2 separate regions of the Homo sapiens genome follow, and region 1 is linked to region 2. The links come from fine-mapping of genetic effects on gene expression. A gene starts in region 2. The other region holds a variant in brackets. All regions are shown on one strand. Distances are between the middles of the regions.

Region 1 (5,385 bases), 120 kb after region 2:
AAATATCTTCATTTTAAATATGCCTACTGATGGTATTAACAAAATATTCGTTTTATTTTTTCAGTATCTTAAATATCAGATTACCTCTTGAGATCACTCACACTGTTAAGAATAGTGGCCTGATTTTATCTTGAATATAATGTCAGTAAAAACTTTATTAACTCTAATTACTGAATAATGTTTAATAGTTATATTTGATTTTTAGTTGTATTTTAGAATTTAAACATTTTATGCCCAAAGGTATAATAACTTGAAATTATAGTTCTTGTTAAAACCAGTCATGAGATTTATAAAGATATTCAGTTCTTTGGCTAATTACTTAAGCCTTCCTGTGATTAAATTTAGCAATAATTTCTCTTGGCGGTTCTGTTCCAACATGTACGTATTTAAAAAAAATAACAAAGTCAGTATTGTACACTAGAAACAGAAGGTAAGTTTGGTACTTTCGGTGCAGTATTTTGAAATTTTAATGTCAAAAAACATAATGTATCTGAAACCACCATTTCAAAATTATAACTGAGACAGTGACAGAAATCCAACCTAACTCCATCTTGCTTCTAACCTCCATGCTGTCCTCGTTCATTCCTGGGCACAGGCTAAACTAACTTTGGGAGGAACTTGGTTTATAGTTTATAGTTTGAAACAAAGATGACAACAGCCCTTTCCCAAAACAAACCCCCTTCTTGCCTAGCGACTAGACCTGCCTTTGCAGGACTACTGAATTAGTCAAAAGATTAATTATGGTTTAGGAGTCATACAGCTGGAGGCTACAAGATTCTGACCCTCCCCAAATTGTTCCTGGGGATAACATCACTATTCAGAGCCTGCACTTGATGGATCAGCTGGCATCACCCAGATTGATAAACTGGCTCATCTGATCTTGTGGCCCCCACCCAGGAACTGACTGCGCAAGAAGACAGCTTCAACTCCCTATGATTTCATCTCCAACCCAACTAATCAGCACTCCCTACTCACTGCCTGCCCACCACCATCCACCAAATTATTCTTAAAAATGCTGATCCCCAAATGCTTGTTCGGGGAGACTGATTTCGGTAATAATAAAACTCTAGTCCTCCACACAGCCGGCTCTGCATGAATTTCTCTTTTTCTATTGCAATTCCCCTGTCTTGATATATTGGCTCTGTCTAGGCAGCGGGCAAAGTGAACCCATTGGGTGATTACCTATCTATGAAGGTAAAATGTAGAAAAAGAAATGTATCTGATCTAATGTACTTAAAAGTAGTAGTGGAAAGTAAGCCTTCAAATCCTTTAGATTATTTAACAAAGTACACTGTAACCATATCTTTTGTGATTGCTAGGTTCTAAGATCAACAACTAAGGTTAAAATCAAATAGTCAAAGTTATTCTTGAAAAATCCTTAAAGTCACAAAAGAAAGAGTCAACAAAATTGAGTCATAATAAGCATGAGGGCCAGGCACAGTGGCTCACGCCTGTAATCCCAACACTTTGGGAGTCCGAGGCGGGTGGATCACCAGGTCAGGAGATTGAGACCATCCTGGCTAATACCGTGAAACCCCACCTCTACTAAAAATACAAAAAATTAGCCGGGCGTGGTGGCACACACCTGTAACGCCTACCTGCTAATCGGAAGGCTAAGGCAAGAGAATGGCTTAAACCTGGGAGGTGAAGTTGCAGTGAGCCGAGATTGCGCCACTGCACTCTAGCCTGGGTGACAGAGCGAGACTCCGTCTCAAAAAATAAATAAATAAATACAAAATAAGCATGAGGAGATCCATGCCTTCACATGCCACACCCACCCTAAGGCAAACCCCCCCAAGTGCTGATGTTTGTAAATTAATTGCCTAGTCTAGTGCCTCAGGCTAAATGCATGCAGAGTGCCACAATCCCCACAATATCTACAGTGAGGCATTTTCTCTCCTGTTTTTCACAATTTATCTGATTCTTTATATTATTTGACTGCCAATATTTACTGTTTTCAGTACTCTTGCTTAAACTCCTTGCTTCTTTATTAGCATTTTGTCAAAAGTTAATGAAACTAACATTTCTTGAGCATCTAGGATATGCCAGGCACCCTGCATAACATTTTGTACAAATCATCTTGTTTAAACACTAAGCAATAAACACTTTCCTGTTGAGAATTTTGGTAGCATGCCCAAGGTTTCAGTCAAGGCTACTAAGTGGTGGAGCAGAGATTAAAACCCAATGGTAGTTTTATTAAAAAAGACGGAATTATTACAACAGATGGTTAATAAAATTTCACCACTCTGTCAACTTCCTAAACCTAAATGTATCTTTCCAATATCTTCAAGAAAAATCAGGTGTTAAGTGGGGAAGCTAAAGGCACTGGGTTTGGCACTTCATTTATATTATCTCATCTAGTTCTCACAACTCTACAATCCAGGTATTGTTATATCCACTATCCAGGGAGTAAACAGAAGTTAAGGGTGGTAAAACACTTGGCCTAAGACTGCAGAGAAAGTTAAAGGCAAAGCGAGAACAGCAGCAACTGTTCTAGTGTATAGTGTATAGTGGAGAGTGTATTAAAGCCTAATACACTCT[A/C]CACTATAACAAGGAAATTACTTTTTTCTTGCATCATTAGGTAACAATTTTTATCTTTCTTCAAAAGCCTTTATTAAAGTTTACAAAGTAAAGACTGCTTCGCTGTTGCAAAAAGAAGGCAAATTCATGTCTTAAAGAATACCAATATTTAATTTGACATGAATTAATTTTAAAAATTATTTAAATTATTTCAATAGTTGCTCAAATATCTTGCTATTATATAACAGGTACCTTACCTACATATTTATTCAAAATAACTTGTGCTGCTGGAATAGCATTCATCTGGAGGATGTTGTACTGGTACAGCTCTGTTTCTCTGTTGCTTTTATCTTGCAATGTTGTGCAGACCCAATACGCATAACCTAATGCTCCTTCAGTCTTTAAAAAAGCCAACGTTAAGCAGACATAGGATAATAAATGTGTCAATAAAAATTATAATAAGAAGTAAAACAATGCACTTCAATACAATAAATATCACATCTCAGTGTTCTTTAAGTCAATTGTTAAAAGTACCTTTAAATGAAGGGTCACTATGATAAAACACAGCGAAGAACATATTGAAATTATTTGCTCCAATCCTAACGAGAAGAATCAAACGGGATAAAATGCAGAAAACAGAGCCTTGCCTGATGGGCTGGCTTTCCCTTCCTCAGCACCATTGCCAAAGGTCAGACCAAAAAAAAAAATGAATTCTACAACATTTTCATAAATAATCTAGAAATGTCTACCATGCCTACTCCTTATCTCATGTCTATCTTTTTCCTAGAGTCTCAGTTTCTATTCTATTAATATATGACTGCTACTATATCTATTAAATCTAAACATCATTTCTTCACCAGCTCTTGAAAGTTGTAGAAAAAAGAAAAATGGTAGTTCTTTAATTCGAGAAAACTAATCTGTTTCTAAGAAAGAATAAAGAATAAAAACAACTGATGTCATTAACATCTAATACCACTATCTATTCATTTTCTTTTTCCTTTTCTTAGAGACAGAATCTTGCTCTGTTGCCCAGGCTGGAGTGCAATGGCATGATCATAGCTCACTGTATCCTGAAACTCCAGGACTCAATCCTCCTGCCTCAGCCTCCTGAGTAGCTAGGACTACAGGTATACACCATCATACCTGGCTAATTTTTAATTTTTTTTTTTAAGAGACAGGGTCTTGCTATATTGTCCAGGCTGGCCTCAAGCAATCCTCCTGCCTTGGCATCCCAAATCACTGGGATTACAGGCATAAGCCACTATGCCTAGCCCAATATCTATTCATTCCCTTAACAAGGATAACACTTTTCTCATTAATGAATCCTCAAGAAGAATGTTCAGATTCTTACATGCATATTTAGTTCTGTAGTGTGCCTGAAGAGATCCATGGTGTCATAACTTCCAACTGCCTCAGCAATAAGAGCCTATAAAAGGAAAAAAACAGACTCTTAATGTGTTTAAAAGACAGTAACAATAATAATACAAAATGAAACTGTCTAGAAGAACCAAAGGTTTACTAGCTGAGCTTAAAAGCAAAGTTAACCTAAGTTTTTCACTTCTATTGTTATTATTTTAACTAAATCTTCCAGTTACCTGCTAAAATAAATTATTTTTAAAACCAAAAATACTTTTAAAATAAAAATTAAAAAGTGATTCTGATAATCATCTAAGATCTACTGAGCTAGAGCAGTACTACGCGAAGTGAGGTCCCTTGGACCAGCCTCATAATCATCACTTGGGAGCAGTTAGAATGCAAATTCTTGGACTCCCTGGGTTCAATGGCTGACACAGAGGCTAGCACAGTAACGCCACTGCTCCCAAATGCTACCACAGTGAATGGGAACAGGAGTTTGCCTTTCTAGCTCTGCTTGCTTCACCAATTAACTAGAATTAGGCCCAAGAGTCTAAAATACAACAAAAGATCTCTAAACCCTGATTAATAATTTTCTGATAAGCAACTGACTGCTTACTAATTCATTATAATTTCTCAACCAGGCAAGAACTTCGAGGCCACTCAGTCTAATCCCCTTCTTTTTCAGGTGAGAAAATTAAAATCCAGAAAAGTGATATGCTAAGGTAAAAAAAGAAAAAAAAATCAGTAGGTAACAGACTCAGACTAGTAACAAAGTATCCTGATTCCTATTTGGCAGTACAAAAATCTGAATTTGGGGGAGGAAAGAACACTCATAAACAAGTGACAAACCAAATATGAAGATTTTACAGAAACATAATATTCAAAATGATCTTTGTAAATGTGCATTTTCTTTGTACATGTGAGTTAAACAATAGAGTTCTGGGTTTATTTTTTAGGCACAGTAATGTCAGACTGGTAAGTGTTCAAAGGCCCCCCAAGTCAGAGTTAAATCCTTACAAGCTACGTGGCCTTAGGAATGACACTTAGGAGCTCTGAGTTTCTATTTCCACAACTATAAAGAGAGTATAACATCAACCATATCTCAAAGAATTGATGATTGATAGATTAACTGAAATAGTGTATACAAAGAGCTAAGCACAGTGACTGGCACAAAGTAAGCCCTCAAATGCTATCCGTTACCATTATTATCACTGTTATGCATATTAGTCAGTTATTGATATCAACAAGCTTATTAGTAACTATATGTTATATTTCTTACTTGTCCAATCCAGCACATTAAATAAGATGGATCAAGGGATTGAGCCATTTTGAAAGCCTCATGAGCTTGCTAGGAAAAAAAGGCAAAAAATATTACAGCAAGTCATTTTATAAACTTATTAAACCGCTTATGTTTAAAAAGCATAAAATAAGTCAAACCTCTCATCATAAATATGTATGAACATAAAATTTCACTGTTTAAGCATAATTAGCAATGCTTAAAGCAGTGTT
Region 2 (5,385 bases):
TGGCTACAACATCACTAGATAATAGGAATTTTTCCACTCCACTAAAATCTTATGGGACCACCATCATATATGCAGTTGGTCATTGACAGTGCCTCACTGTACACTCCTTGTGTGAGTTAAAAATAGGTGCCGCTTTCTCAAAACCCTTTACTTCCATGTCAGAAAATTATCCTGACTTTCTTTGGTAAAATGAGATATTTTCTTGATATATGCCTGAAAAATTACTGTAACAAATATGAAAATCTACAGTGTTACCATGAGTGCCCCAGAGGGTTGTGTAGTGCACAACACATAGCGTTTCTGTCTGATGACCTTCAACACTGACTATCCCCCATCACTGACCACCATGTCAGGATTATGTCTTTAGATCTATATTAAATATACTATAGTATAAGGCCACTTTAAAGATTGAAATTGAACATTTTTAATTTCTGTGCTTTTATTAGCCCTAGATTAGAAAAGATATATGAAGATTATTGACTTCTGAGAAGGATTTTACATATGCATTTTAGACAAGTGGGAAGCTATTTGAGTCCATCTTCTTCTGCTATAACAGAATACCATAGTCTGGGGCCTGGAATGGTGGCTCACACCAGTAATCCCAGCACTTTGGGAGGCTGAGATGGGTGGATCACTTGAGGTCAGGAGTTTGAGACCAGCCTGGCCAACATGGTGAAACTCCGTCTCCACTAAAAATACAAAAATTAGTCAGATATGGCAGTGCACACCTGTAGTCCCAGCTACTCAGGAGGCTAAGGCATGAGAATTGCTTGAACTTTGGAGGCAGAGGTTGCAGTGAGCCAAGATCGCACCACTGCACTCCAGGCTGGGCAACAGAGCAAGACTCTGTCTAAAAAAAGAATACCATAGTCTGGGCATTTATTTGGCTCATGGTTCCAGAGGCTGGGAAGTCCAAGATTGAGAGGATACATCTTTATATTACATCATAACATAGCAAGAAGGGAAATAAGAATGCAAGACAGAAAGAGATAAACTAAGCCAAACTCATCCTTTCTATCAGGAGCCCACTCCTATGATAACTAACTCATTCCCACAATAAGGGCTTTAATTCATTCATTAGGAGAGAGCCCTCATGACCTAATCACTTCTTAAAGCCTCCACTTCCTAATACTATTAGAATGGCAATAGGCCAGGCACGGTGGCTCACGCCTGTAATCCCAGCACTTTGGGAGGCCGAGGTGGGCAGATCACGAGGTCAGGAAATCGAGACCATCCTGGCTAACACGATGAAACCCTGTCTCTACTAAAAATACAAAAAATTAGCCGAGTGTGGTGGTGGGCACCTGTAGTCCCAGCTATTTGGGAGGCTGAGGCAGGAGAATGGCATGAATCTGGGAGGCCAAGCTTACAGTGAGCCAAGATCGCACTATTGCACTCCAGCCTGGGTGACAGTGCAAGACTACAACTCAAAAAAAAAAAAAAAAGAATGGCAATTACATTTCAACATGAGTTTTGGTGGAGAGATTCAAACCAGAGCAGACATTAATAATATACATATATATTATGTGCATTGTTATGTTAAAATTGAATAGCCATTTATGTTTAGAGAACAAACCTACCAAAATTGTCCATTTTAGTAGGGCCCATTTTTCTAACCAAATACCATGGATTAAAAGCTGAATTTAAGAAGAGAAAGAATCTTAAAAAGTTGTTAAGCAAGGTTAAATCTAGTTTTTCTTTCTCACACAGACTCTGCTTGTGACTGTTTCTTGGATAATTGGCACCTTGTGAAATAATCGCTAATAATAGTTATCTTTTAGTGGATTCCTGGCACCGCCCTCAGCTGAGCGCTGTAAGTATATTATTACATTTAATCCTCTCAACCATCTTATGGGATCGATATTATTAGCTCATTTCACAGAGGAGAAAGTTGAGGCTTAAAGAGGTGATGTAATTTTGTCCAAACTAAACAGCTGGTAGGTTGAGGAGTCAGGGTTCCAATCCACTCTCTCAGAATCTGTAGCCACCTGCTCTTAGTCACTGCTGTGTGTCAGTCTCCCTTGGCACTAGATACAATGGTGATTAGGGTAGCATAATGAGCCTTTTGGACTGCTTGCAAACCATGAACTACTGCATCTTTGAGTTTTAAGGGCTTAGCTTAGGACTAGGGGATATGCATGGAAGCCCAAATCATAGGTGTCCTTTATCTGTGGGATCAAAGTTTGTCACTCAGCATCCTGAACATTGTGTGCCTTTAAACAAGGCAAATCTGATACCATAATTTGGACAACAACTTAGCCAAAGCATCATTTCTGTATATGGAGGCCAAGTAGTACTAACAAACATGCAAATTCTAATTTTAAAACTCAGACAAACATTTTACAGCTAAAACAATCCACCCCCTTTTGGCTAAATAACTGAACAAAATTTCCCCTACAAAGGCAAAGTTCAATATTTTCATTTCTGTAAAACTCTGACCCATGTCACTTTTCATCAGTGCTGCACTATCTGTGAAGTCCCCTTCTAACCTAGAAGAGTTAGCTTCCTCCCTAACATACTTGGAGAAAGATTTGGGCATACCGCAGCATTTCATTTCCTCTTTGTCTAGCTTGATGATAACTCGTCACTTTTCAAACTGTGAAGATGAAATCAGGAGAAGAGTGTGAAATATCAGTATAACAATGGCCACTTCCCACCCCATGAGACAAAGAAGTGAAAGGCTTAGTGATTTGTATGATGATGAGCACTACAGAAAACATTCAAAGCTTCTAAATCCCAGGGATTTCCTGACTTCAGTTGTGAGGGCCAGCCACACTGACATCATAGATCCTTCCTGCAGTCACAATGCTACTAAGTCACCCTTGGGAAGAGGCCCCAGAAACAGGAAGACCTTAGTTAGGATGCAATTACAATTCCTTGGTACATTGGCTTCCTCAGAAAAAAGAAAAAAATCACAGAGATTGTTTTTCAAAAATATCAAATCTACAAAAAATAAAGCTGGAAAAGCAAGCATCATGAGTTCAGGTACTTATGGACTATTCGAGGTCTCTAAATTTCTCCTACTTCACTATCTTTCTTCTGTTTCTTATTACATATAAACAAAATAATGAATCCCAATGAAGACCCTCAGAAGGCTTGGGCACAACAGAGTAATAACTTAAACAAATGTACAAGAAAAAAAAACCCCATCAAAAAGTGGGCAAAGGATGTGAACAGACACTTCTCAAAAGAAGACATTTATGCAGCCAAAACATACGAGAAAAAGCTCATCATCACTTGTCATTACAGAAATGCAAATCAAAACTACAATGAGATACCATCTCATGCCAGTTAGAATAGTAACCATTAAAAAGTCAGGAAACAACAGATGCTGGGGAGGATGTGGAGAAATAGGAACGCTTTTATACTGTTGGTGGGAGTGTAAATTAGTTCAACCATGTGGAAGACAGTGAGGTGATTCCTCAAGGATCTAGAACTAGAAATACCATTTGATCCAGCAATCCCATTAATGGGTATATACCCAAAGGACTATAAATCATTCTACTATAAAGACACATGCACACGTATGTTTATTGCAGCACTGTTCACAATAGCAAAGACTTGGAACCAACCCAAATGCCCATCAATGATAGACTGGATAAAGAAAATGCCGCACATATACACCATGGAATACTATGCAGCCATAAAAAAGGATGAGTTCATGTCCCTTTGCAGGGACATGGATGAAGCTGGAAACCATCATTCTCAGCAAACTAACACAGGAACGGAAAACCAAACACCACATGTTCTCACTCACAAGTGGGAGTTGAACAATGAGAACACATGGACACAGGGAGGGGAACATCACACACTGGGGCCTGTTGGGGGTTGGGGGCTAGAGGAGGAATAGTATTAGGAGAAATACCTAATGTAGATGATGGGCTGATGGGTGCAGCAAACCACCATGGCACGTGTATACCTACGTAACAAACCTGCATGTTCTGCACGTGTATCCCAGGACTTAAAGTATAATTTAAAAAAAATACATTCCTGATTATTTTAGAGCTGTCTGATCCTAAAAAAGTTTCTAAAGGTCTTATAGAAGTATCTGTAAAGAAATGCTCTTCTAGCTAACTATAGATGTTATGGGGGGATGGGGGAGAATTGGGATAAGTGAGGAGAGGGGAAATGTAAAGCAAATTGAAAGCCTCCCTTTAAGCCAAGCTATATGTACAGAAACTGCCCTCAATTAAAAAAAAATTAGCAGCACTGCAAAAATTCACTTGTCATAGTTCCTGACCTGATTCAGCATTCTGGTTACCTAGATACAAATGTAAACAAAAGTGCCTCTCCAACTGCGACTGCAGAGGAACAGCCAGTTGAACCTGATGGCCCCCTTCCTGGCTCAGACAATAACCAAGAAAAGAAAGCAAGTACTTTTCAATATTCACATTAAAAGTAGAATACTTTGCTCAGCTTCTTTAAAGTTTAGAGTGCTTAGAGAGTTTAAGAAGTTCTGGAAGAATAGTTCTCCCACATTTCCTGTTTGTTCTGTCTTGGCAAAATGGCTGCTGAAAACACAAGCTGAAAAGAAAAATGACCTCAATTTACAATTTCATTAATTAGACTGATTTTTAATATATGGGGCTAAAATTCTTTTAAGTTGATCATTATGTATGTTTTATGATGATTCAAAAGGAACCATGATAAACTCAAGGTGCAGACTTTATCTTTATCTCTAACATGAAAACCGGTATAGCTAAATAGAATGTTTCCTTTATTAGAACTTGTCGTATCTTCTCCGTTAAAAAGAACATTTTTTAAAGCAGTGTTTTTAGACTTTTTTTGCACTTCTCTTAACACCTTGTAATTTACATAACAAGAGGCAGATGCAGTCACTTGTTACATAAAGCACTAGCACAATATCAAACATTGATTTTTGGTATGTATTATATAATAGGCTGTACCACATACTAGCTGTGGGACTTTGGAATGATTACTTAACCTCTGTTTCTTCTTCTGTAAAATGGGTGAATTAGGCTTATCATACAAAGTTATTGTGGGTTTGAATGAGTCACTTAAGTAAGTGCTTAGCAAGTAGGAAGGGCTACAGTATGATTATCATCATCATCTACATGATCTTGGGCAAGTCCCGTACTTCTCTGATCCTGAAGCTCCTCACCTATAAAAAATAGTCATCTTAATTTCTTTCCATAATAAGGGTTTCAGCTTCTTAAGGTAACTAATGTCATCCTTACACTAATGGGAAGGTAATGATATCCACTTTATAGGGCATTCATGTCAAATAAAATTATGTCATATACAAGAACGTATTTCATAGCCCATAAAACCAAAAAGCTATAACATTCAAAGCATTATTATGAAATGGATAAAACTGATATATGTAAAAAAATTCCCATAGTGGCCATCAAGTTGTTTGTGAGA

Which allele goes with the higher level. Alleles are on the strand shown, and positions count from the first base shown. SD is a standard deviation of normalised expression in the study named.
As copies of A replace C in region 1, the expression in cerebellar hemisphere of the gene that starts at base 2,838 in region 2 goes down (large effect, 0.91 SD a copy in GTEx).

Evidence for each region. PIP is the estimated chance that this variant, and not a neighbour inherited with it, causes the effect.
Region 1: its variant is the best candidate, but not a certain one, in a credible set for the expression of FAM81B in cerebellar hemisphere (GTEx, PIP 0.70).

Annotation. Positions count from the first base shown.
Region 1 is chr5:95,509,700-95,515,084 of GRCh38, forward strand. It overlaps SKIC3 (SKI3 subunit of superkiller complex), which reads right to left. Exons shown (of 43, transcript NM_014639.4): 26 at 5,156-5,224; 27 at 3,872-3,946; 28 at 2,778-2,919. Among named protein-coding and RNA genes, the nearest start is that of SKIC3, 43 kb to the right of the region's middle. The variant A/C (reference allele first, on the strand shown) is at 2,542.
Region 2 is chr5:95,388,529-95,393,913 of GRCh38, forward strand. FAM81B (family with sequence similarity 81 member B) reads left to right here and starts at 2,838. Exons shown (of 10, transcript NM_152548.3): 1 at 2,838-2,985; 2 at 4,266-4,369. The coding sequence starts at 2,862. LOC105379089 (a long non-coding RNA gene) reads right to left here and starts at 2,644. Exons shown (of 3, transcript XR_948586.1): 1 at 2,542-2,644. RefSeq lists an enhancer at 3,998-4,855.